Linked DNA regions of Homo sapiens. The protein of the gene in region 2 purifies or fractionates together with the protein of the main gene of each other region. This does not show direct contact. Each region holds a gene or a part of one and is shown on either strand. Other genes may lie near its edges. The genes, in order: PRKCI, RASSF8 and CEP44.

The links.
Region 1: the proteins of RASSF8 (region 2) and PRKCI purify together in Homo sapiens (affinity purification with mass spectrometry; 4 studies listed by BioGRID and IntAct, with this or other methods). This does not show direct contact.
Region 3: the proteins of RASSF8 (region 2) and CEP44 purify together in Homo sapiens (co-immunoprecipitation; 2 studies listed by BioGRID and IntAct, with this or other methods). This does not show direct contact.

Annotation. Positions count from the first base shown.
Region 1 is NC_000003.12:170,302,311-170,306,069, reverse strand, and holds the end of PRKCI (protein kinase C iota type), read right to left. Parts: intron 3,031-3,759; coding exon 2,943-3,030; 3' UTR 93-2,942; downstream 1-92.
Region 2 is NC_000012.12:26,052,682-26,056,340, forward strand, and holds part of RASSF8 (ras association domain-containing protein 8), read left to right. Parts: exon of another isoform or gene 1-315; intron 316-2,554; 5' UTR 2,555-2,662; coding exon 2,663-2,765; intron 2,766-3,659.
Region 3 is NC_000004.12:174,304,411-174,308,069, forward strand, and holds part of CEP44 (centrosomal protein of 44 kDa), read left to right. Parts: intron 1-3,659. UniProt on the Homo sapiens protein: Centriole-enriched microtubule-binding protein involved in centriole biogenesis. In collaboration with CEP295 and POC1B, is required for the centriole-to-centrosome conversion by ensuring the formation of bona fide centriole wall.

The DNA.
Region 1 (3,759 bases), on a different chromosome or scaffold from region 2:
AAATTTTCACTTTTTCTTGAACAAATTTTGATGCATCTTTGTTCTTATACAAATTTCTGACATACTACATATGAAAAATGATCCACTCTCAATGGGTATTATACATTTTATTTAAAGACTTCAAAGTAAAAAAAAAAAAAAAAGGTACAGAAATAGATTACATTATGATGACCACAGTAGTATTCTACATGACAAAAATAAAAACAGATTTAAGTAAATGTACCGGCACTGAACAAGCATTTACTTAACATCCAATCCAGGCTGCATATGCACAAAATGATCTGACCACATGCTTATGCAAAATAAAGTTTTTCTTAGAAAGCCAAAATTCCAACCATTCTGACTGTCCGCTGCCTATTCCCCTGTTGAGTATTTTGAGCGAACTTCTATAGAATATAAGAACAATTGGCATGGCACTTAAAGACTGCAAAAAACAGAACACAATTAAAAACATTTATAATGCATTTCTGTATAAAATACACACCGTAAATCTTATTAGTTAAAAAAAGATTTAAAAACAAAAGACCACCCTGAATAATGGTTAAAACCTCATCATAGAAAAATGCTCATCATTTTGTACACTGAAAGAAACTACTGAGAGGTTTTTTGGGGGGCTGGTGGGAAGGTAGATACCTAACTTAAAGATTCATTCAAAATTTGCTTTAAATTGTGGGTAATAACTCACTGCTTACCCCTTCTCAAAATGTTTTATCATGAATACTCTAATATTTAACCACAGGACAAACATAAAGAATAACCTGAAGAAGGTATTTCTCAAAGTGAGGTCGAAGGCCCCAAAAGAAGTCTAAGGTGGGCTCACTAGTGTGCATTTTAAACCAACTTCCTAGGTGATTATTTCACATTCCAAAATCTGAGAACTAATGCCCTATGGGAAACAGCACCACTTAAAAGCAAGGCCATAAACATATTTCTGACATGAGATACAGAATTCTAAGTTTATGATTTGAAGTGAATACTGCTTTTTGTTTTAAAACAAGTTTCAGGTGTTAAGAGAAACATATTAAATAAACATGTGGATGTATATAAACATTTTCCTTTGACGTTTTCATTGCTTTCAGACTTATGTTATTTGAAGGAAAGAGAGTATATAGCTAGAAACTTTGGAAAAATGACATTTCCAATGAAATGCAGCATCCACCCCTCCAAAAAAAGATAATTTATTAAATGCCTACAAATTTTAAAACATTTGAAATTTAAACTAGATAACTTTCCTAAAATTTTTACTAAGATTAAAAAATTTTAAGTAATTTAGATAATCATGTTTACTTTTTAAGTCCCTTTTCATTAAAAATATATTTAAAATAAACAACAGAAGGATGCTATATTTGGCACCCCTTTAAATAATAAGCTGCTGAACACTAATATCCATAAAAAATAATCCGAGGAACTCTGCCTCTGAAATGTATTCTACTATGTATTACATGTGTTATCTAGTTAATAAAAACTCACTGAAAGAGCTGATACTGTGATGTGTGTGAGTGTATGTGTGTGTCCTGAACATTTATTCATGCCTACTTTATTTTTCTGATTTCACTAAAGGGTCCAATCATATAGATAATGTGGTTTAGGGGAAGAAATGAGCATAATTAAGATACCCTACTTAAAAAATAAATACTTTTCCTGTATGCTAAATTATAAGGAAAAAATATTATACATTCTGCCTCCACTGAATACATGGAATGCTTTTACAAGTTTGGTAACAATAATGAGTGCCTCATTTGAATCAAGTCACAAAAAGCAACTGTGGGGATTCACTCTCCAATAGGAAATAAAAATATTACCAGTGTACTTTTCTGTATCTATTTTAAATTTCTGGTTTTTTTCCTTTCTATACACTGAGTAATTTTCCATTCAACTGCATCCTTGGTCTTTTGCAGTGTATATATTAACACTGCAGTTAAAGTTTCCAATAAAGGGAAAGGCTCAGGAGCTACCCTGTTAATATACTTAAAAAGAAAAACCACTTGTGCCAGTTTTGCAAAAATAGTTAATGATTTGGAATCTGATTCATAATAAAAAGTGTCTTTTTTAACTCAAGAAGAATTTCCCAATTTGGTTTTTGTTTGAGACCGAGTCTCACTCACTGTTGCCCAGGCTAATCTTGGCTCACTGCCAACTCCATCTCCTGGGTTCAAGCGATTCTCCTGTTTCAGCCTCCCGAGTAGCTGGGATTACAGGTATGTGCCACCATGCCCAGCTAATTTTTGTATTTTTAGTAGAGACAGGATTTCACCATGTTGACCAGGCCAATCTCAAACTCCTGACCTCAAGTGATCTGCCCGCCTCAACCTCCCAAAGTACTGGGATCACAGGCATTGAGTCACTGCACCCAGCCGAATTTCCCAATTCTAAGCAAGCAGCATCTTCTATTACCAATTTAATAACTGCTGCCTTAAAAAAGATCAATAATTTATTTATCCAAGGCAATAAAATTTACACCTGAATTTTTAAACATAAAGAACTCCAAAACTAATAGGTAATATAAAAAGTTGTTGCATTTTATATTAATCTTTTATTTCAAAATTAAACCCTGAAATGATTTAACACAGAATGACAAAAATTATGGGAGGTTTATGATGTAATCCCACTATGTGCCTTAATGCAACAGATACTTTTTTAATGCAGTGTTTTTTTTTTTTTTAAACAAAAAAGATAACTTCATTACTCATCTGTAGGCCTTTTAAAAACTGAAAAACCAGTTCAACTAAATTTTGACATGATTGTCTGGAAGCTAGTAGTATTAATTTTTTTTTCATAGTAAAACAGATGTAATAATTGATTCATATAGTCTACAAGAGAAGATATTGGGTGTTTTTTTGTAGGTGGCAAATATAAAATGGTTAATTGTATCCAGGCTTGCAGCAAGTTTATCCATGCATTAAATGGCAACATGAGTAGAATACATGGTTGAAAAATGAGGATCAGACACATTCTTCTGCAGACATCAAAAGAGGATTGATATACTCAAAACCTTCAAATTCAGACTGATCAATCTTCCTCACAATGTCACTGTTGAAAGAAAAATAAATTTATTTTCATCATAATCAAGATTTCTTCAACCTTTAAATGGTAAAATAAGATTAAAAATCAAGTAATTAGGCTAATTGTACTGAAAGGAAATCTATAAATTTTTAGATTAATCCCCCAGATTTTCTAGACGAATCAAGAATGGAGTACTGAAAATTTAAAAAACCCCGATAATCCCACAAGCAAGTTTAGAGCCAAAAAGGAGTTCAAAACTGAGGACTGCGAATAAAAAAGACACCAGTTGTCACCATTCCAGTTAATCTTAACTTTTGACCAGAACAACATTCCTAGTTACAGGTGAACATCCAGGTTTGAATTAGCATTCAATTTAGTAGTCACCTCAACAGCCAGATGTTAGATAGTGTAGCCCAGAAGAAGTTAGCCAAAAGGAAAAGGCAATAGGAACAAGTACACTGAGAGACCTGGAATGAGGAGAGAACACCGCAGGGAGATCATGGGTCACAGAGAGGGGAGAGGTTGGCATTTTGTTACACTGGGCTTCTACTTTAATATACAGTGAGTAGTGCTATCAAATATTTAATACATAAATGTATTATGCCATACTAAGAAGCACAAAGTTACAGAGGATACAGTCCCTTCCTTCAAGGAAGGGAGGTAATTCCTACTGGAAGAGAAAGCAGTACTTGTTAAATTTTATACACAATAAGCTAAGTCCTGTTCTAACCATGGTTCTAAAGAAAGGTGTGACTT
Region 2 (3,659 bases):
ACAGCTCCTAGAGTGGAGTATTTTGGGCTGAGACGATGGGGTTTTCCAGATATTGGATCATGTCATCTGCAAAGAAAGACAACTTGACTTCCTCTCCTCCCATTTGACTACACTTTATTTCTTTCTCTTGCCTGATTGCCCTGGCCTGAATTTCCAATACTATGTTGAATTAATGACTCAATATATGACTAAAAGTTCAAAGTGAAACAATGATAATTCAGATAGGAAAATATGTGGCAGTATGCTAAAGTCTAAAAAGGAATATAAAACGTCTGTGAGATACCTAACATCAGATTTATAGAAACAGAATAGAATGTAGGTTGTTGGGGGCTGCGGACAGGGCGAAATGGGCAGTTGCTTGTAGAAGGGGTATAAAGTTTCAGTTACACAATTATGAGTAAGTTCTAGAGATCTGCTGTCCAACATGATGCCTGTAGTTAATAATACTGTATCATGTACTTAAAAATGTGTTAAATGGATAGATCTTATGTTTTCTTCCACAATTGAAAAAAAAAAAAGTCCTATAGAATCATTTGAAATGATGGGTTTCTTGGTGGCAGGGGGGCTTTAATGAGATCTGTACCCTTTCTTGCTTGATTTCCCAAGTTTAAGATATTTTAATGAATAAGAAGGCACTTTAAATAGACTTTAATCCAGCTTTTACAAAAATTTAATAAAGCAATATATTAATCTTAGGCCATTTTTGATACCTTAATTTTATCCCAAGAAAGAATAAAACATATTCTATTTTTAGTAAGTAGAGTGCCTCGCAGAAGAGGAAACAAGTCAGAACTTTTCTGTTTTCTTAAATGTTCTCTAGATTGGGCAGCATATAAAACTCTCCTTTGAAATTTAGAGTGCACACCAGCCTATTAAAGTCTCAGAGAAGTCTAGCTGTAAAGGAACTTGTTTAACTTTATTTACTGGCTTTCTTAACATTTCTTTAACTTTGGAAGCCTTTATCCCCAGGAACTTTAACATCTCACAGGCCCTCATAACTGAGGAGCACAGTTATGGAATCAGCTTGTCATTGCCAAGGTGGCCCCTTCTTTCTTCATACAGGGGATAATGAAACCTATGCTGTGTCATATGCAGAGAGCTAAAGCAAAGTGCTAGGAGATTAATGTTCAGCCAGGCCTTTCTTGTTTTTAGGATGACAAAAAGGATTTGTGTACCTTCTCTGGAGAAAATAATTAGGTTTATTCTCCTTCCCCTTGCATGTGTTCTGACTTACCTATCCAGGTGACCAGATGGCCTAGAACTGTCTTAGGTCTTTTAAAAGAATGTGCAAGGGACTAAGCCACTGTTTGTAGTAACTACTGTTTTACAAGAAAAATTTCTAGTGTTTTTAAAATAAGCTTTTAAATAAGCCATTAATTCTGAAATACCAGTGCCACTGTAAACCTATAAACAAATCCAAATGTTCTCTTAATTAAATCAATGTTTATTATATCTCATGAATTTTAACAACAAAGACGTGGGAAGACCACAAAACAATGGACAAACAAAAAATCAGATTGATTAGAGAATTTACATAGGAAGAGTTGAGAGTTTTTTTAAACCCACAGGAAAAAGAATTGTGATCATTTTTAGCAGGCTAGTAACATTCTTATCGATACAGGAAATAAAGAATATTTGGTTTGACTATATGACAAAGTAAAAATTTCTGCTTTGCTTATAATGCAGCCAAATACAAAATCAAACACTGGGTAAACACAGCAAGTAGAACAAACGGTTAATGTTTATATTTTTTGAATAACTCTTGTAATTTAAGAAAACTATCAAACCCAGTTAAATGAGAAAAGGATAAACAGTTCACACATGAGGAAACTGTTGGTCGTCAAAGGAATTCGTTTCCTTTGACTAAGATTTTTTACCCACCTGCCCTCATGCTGTGCCTGGTGTTGGCATTTCAGCGGGAAGACACTCTTTGTCCTGTGGGGAGAGGGAGGCAAGGGACACATTTAAAACAGTTGTCAAGACATCATACATGAGAAGAGAGAATGAAATAATAAGGGAAAAAAATATTAGGAAGGCAGACAGGTAGCAGTTTTTTTGTTTGTTTGTTTGTTTTAAATCAGGAATGTGAGCTGAGTAAGATACTTTGACAACTGTTCTTAAATTTGTTAATAGTATTGGCAAAACACTGCACACTGCAAAGTGGTTCAATTTTATTGATAATTCCTAAAATGACAAACTTTTTTTCTTTAGTTTTGCCTCAGAAATTATCCTAATGAAATAATCCAAAAAGAAAAAAAACAGGACAGAAAAACAGCGCATATATTGAATAGGGCTTGGCAACTAAATAGGAATTTTTAATGTAATGGAGCATGAGTTCATGATTAAAATTATGATAAAAATAGTTGTAACATGAAACACTGTCATGATAGGTGACTGTAGTTGCATTTGTGTTGCTTAATTCATTTCTGTAAAATAAGCCTGTGTACTTCAGTAAGATTATGATATGTTAAAATTTGTTTTGTGTAATACTTACATACTTACTAGAAGAAATGTTGATTCATTTTATTACAAGTGATTTTTTGCCCTTTTTTAGCTGACTACACAGACTTAGTCTTCTCCACTCCGTGTTCCTGCAGCTAGAGACATGACCTAACACCCTGATGACCACTCTCAGGGACCTTGAGTGACTGGCCGGTGCACCATGGAACTTAAAGTATGGGTGGATGGAGTTCAGAGGATTGTTTGTGGAGTCACTGAAGTCACAACTTGCCAGGAGGTTGTCATAGCCTTAGCTCAAGCAATAGGTGAGTGAACTCTGTGGGTATCTGAGAAAAGTACATTGTGCTTTCTTTCGTTGTATGTGTTTGTTTTAAATATAGATTTCTAGGGGATTTTGTTCATTTGGTTCCATAATAAGTCTCACAGGCACTCTTGTACTTATTACAGTTTGCCTGTGTTTAGGTACATCTGTGATGATGCTTGTTCTCTGACACCCCTAGATTTTACTAACCCTGAGTTAACATCTACACTGCCTTCTCCTCTCCTGTTGTTCAGCCTAAACAGTGACTTCTGAAACTAAAGATGTTTCCATGAGCCAAAATTTAGACCCAGATTAAGAATTTAGATTCTTAGTTCCCAGAATCCCTCATTAGGAAAAATCCCACCTATTGTTTATTTCTCCATACTTTCAGAAAATACAACAAATGAAATAACATCGTTCTTCACTGGAAAGATAATGTATACTTTTAAAATCTTATGATTGGCTGGGCATGGTGGCTCACGCCTGTAATCCCAGCACTTTGGGAGGCTGAGGCAGGCAGATCACTTGAGGTCAGGAGTTCGAGACCAGCCTGGCAAACATGGTCAAACCCGTCTTTAATAAAACTACAAAAATTAGCCGGGCGTGGTGGTGCGCACCTGTAATCCCAGCTACTATGGAGGCTGAGGAAGGAGAATGGCTTCAACCCAGGAGACAGAGGTTGCAGTGAGCCAAGATCATGCCACTGCACTACAGCTTGGGTGACAGCGAAACTCGGTCTCAATAAATAAAATAAAATAAAATCTTATTATACAGTGAAAATGAAGCACAGCTCTTGGCTTCATGTTATTCTCCCACCATGTTTTACCCTTTCTTCTTATTTATTTTAAGCTTATCTTCATCATAGTTTATGTATATTTAGTTGCCTTAAATGATGAGG
Region 3 (3,659 bases), on a different chromosome or scaffold from region 2:
TCTAATTAATCCAATATACAGTTTTCACTTTTCTGATTGGCACCTGATGAACATTCTAGTTAGATATTGGAGTTCATTGATTTTTAACAGTGCATGCCATATATTTTTGGGCAGTATGCCTGAAGTTATAACAATAGGATAGAAATATAAAATTAAATACGTGTTCTCTTTATATTTCTAATTTCTAATTCTGCCGGATTTCCTAAACAGAAGAGTAGTGATTTAGGAAGATTATCTTATGCAGTTATCTACATTTGCTCTTAATTGTGTTCTGGTCTTCCTAAAACATGGGAACATATGAAGAGCCTACATTAGCAGTAGTGATAGGTTATAATGATTCATTTATGTACATTATATTTCTGTAACCAAGTATGAATTATCCAATAATTGGTAGTCCCTACACGTAGAATCTGGTTTTCAGTTAATATTTTGAATATTTTCTCTTTCTTGAAAGATAATTTTTCTGCCATTATCTGCTTTGAGCAGCTGTGGCAAATTGAATCTAATGCACTTAGAGCTACAGTGTTTCTATCACTAAGGGAGACTTAAGCTAAAATATTATTTATTAATATATTTTCAGCTGTCTTCCAGCTGGAGAAGACTCTGATTGAATGATAGAATATCAGATGAATTATCAATGGTGTAATTAAGTAAAGGATGTGAATACTTTCTGACTGAAGTATAATCTAGAGTATTATTTCTGCCCTAATCCAAAATACATGAGTTATGTAAACAGAATCTATTTTAAAAATTTATTCTTGGGTCTAGCACAGTAGCTCATGCCTGTAATCCCAGCACTTTGGGAGGCCAAGGCAGGTGGATCACCTAAAGTCAGGAGTTTGAGACCAGCCTGACCAGCATGGCGAAACCCCATTTCTACTAAAAATACAAAAATTAGCTAGGCGTGGTAGCTGGTGCCTGTAACCCCAGCTACTTGAGAGACTGAGGCAGGAGAATCGCTTGAACCCTGGAGGCAGAGGTTCCAGTGAGCCGAGATTGTACTACTGCAGTCCAGGCTGGCTGACAGAGCGAGACTCCATCTCAAAAAAATATGTTTATTCCTTTATACCTTAAAAAAGTGAAATTTTATTATAAGAAAATGTTCTTATGCCACTTCTTTTTAATGTACCTGTTTTGCTCTAGGTAATGAAGACAATATAAAGAATGATACAAAGCCGCCATTTTTGAATAAGTGCATGTAGTTTTTGTACACTTGCATCTCTAACTCATCTAACTCTTGTTAGTTTTATTTATGATTTTCTAACTGTTAAATGACTTATATCTTGTATTCTTCCCCAACTAGAAGGAACATATATGAACAGGGATTTTCTTATACTGATTTTTTGTACCTTCATTTTGCTTAGCACAGGATTAGGAACACTGTGAGCACTTATTAATTATTTATTGATATAATGTGCTTTTCAATGTTCTATTTCAGTATGAGAGTTGAGGGGACAGTGTAAATTGTCCTAGCCAAGAAAAATGTAAACTTCAAAACATTAGACTTATTTTTAATTTTCTTAAAGCAAAGTTTTCTTTGTTATCTATTAAAATTTATACCAGATCTTTATCAGAAATTTGAATAAGTATTAAAAGTTCTCAGATTTAGAAAAGAGTCTACAAGTACATTTCTTTGTTTACAAGCAAAAGTTGAGTCAATATTAAAGCAAATTGTCTCCTATCCCAGTGCCTTATATAGTATGCCTATTTGCGCTTCTGAGTCACATATGTTTTTATAGTGTGTATGCAAACTGTAGAATAGGAAGCAGGTAGAGGATTTCTAGGTAAATGCATACCGTGACCTAATGCTTTTTTTGTCAGGACTTCTTCGTTGTCATTATTAGGTTTGAATTGTTAGCTGAAGGTCTAATAAATTGCAGTTTGTTTAACAGAAAAATTGTAATGAGCCCTACTCATAGAGCCAGTTTTTGATTATTTATAAGTGAATTATTTGGCAATCTTTTTTAAAAATAACTTTTTATTATGGAACATTTCAAACATTTACAAACATACCCATCATCCAGTTTCAGCAATTTATCAACTCTTTGCTAATCTTGTTTTGTCTTTATTTTAAATCAAATCTCAGACATAATTTAATAAATATTTCAGCGCTTGTCCTAAAATGTAAGAATTGTTTTAAAAGTCATAACCCCAATTTTATCATCACACATAAATTATTGGTAATGTTAGTAATGGTAATATTTTGATATATATATTATATGTGATAATTTAAACTTTTTTTAATTTTTAAAGATTGGTGTTCCTTTTGCAAAATTGCTGTATGTTTAAAATAATTGTAGGAGGATCTTCTCAGCCCAAAAGCTTCTTAAGCTGATAAGCAACTTCAGCAAAGTCTTGAGATACAAAATCAATGTGCAAAAATTGCTAGCAATCTTATCTACCAACAACAGTCAAGCTGAGAACCAAATCACAAACAAACTCCCATTCAAAATTGCCACAAAAAGAATAAAATACCTAGGAATCTAGCTAACAAGGGAGGCAAAAGATCTCTACAAGCAAAACTATAAACCATTGCTCAAAGAAATCAGAGATGACACAAACAAATGGAAAAACATTCCATGCTCATGGATAGGAAGAATCAATATTGTTAAAATGACTGTACTGCCCAAAGCAATTTATAGATTCAATGCTACTCCCATTAAACTACCATTGACAGTCTTCAGAGAACTAAAGAAAACTACTTTAAAATTTATATGAAACCAAAAAAGACCCAAATAGCCAAGGCAATCCTAAGGAGAAAGAACAAAGCTGGAGGGATCATGCTACCCAACTTCAAACTATACTACAGGGCTACAGTAACCAAAACATCATGGTACTAGTACCAGAACAGACACATAGACCAATGGAAGAGAATAGAGAACCCAGAAATAAGACCACACACCTGCAACTATCAGATCTTCAACAAACCTGATGAAAACAAGCAATGGGGAAAGGATTCCCTAGTCAGTAAATGGTGCTTTGATAACTGGGTAGCCATATGCAGAAGATTGAAACTAGACCCTTTCCTTACACCATACACAAAAATCAACTCAAGATGGATTAGAGACTTAAATGTAAAACCCAAAACTATAAAAACCCTGGAAGACAACCTAGGCAGTACCATTCAGGACATAGGTGTCGGCAATGATTTCATGACGAAGACGCCAAAGGCAATTCCAACAAAAGCAAAAGTTGATAAATGGGATCTAATTGAACTAAAGAGCTTCTACACAGCAAAAGAAACTATCAGCAAAGTAAACAGACACCCTCCGGAGTGGGAGAAAATTTTTGCAAACTTGTATCTGACAAAGGCCTAATATCTAGCATCCATAAAGAACTTAAACAAATTTACAAGAAAAAAACAACCTAATTAAAAAGTGGACAAAGGATATGAACATCTACTTCTGAAGAGAAGGTATACATGCAGCCAATAATCACATGAAAAAAACTCAACATCACTGATCATTAGAAAAATGCAAATCATAACCACAATGAGATACCATGTCACGCTTCTCAGAATGACTATTATTAAAAAGTCTAAAAATAACAGATGCTCGTGAGTTTGTGGAAGAAAAGGAACATTTATACACTGTTGGTGGGAGTGTAAGTTAGTTCAACCACCGTGGAAGACAGTGTGGCAATTCCTCAAAGACCTAAAG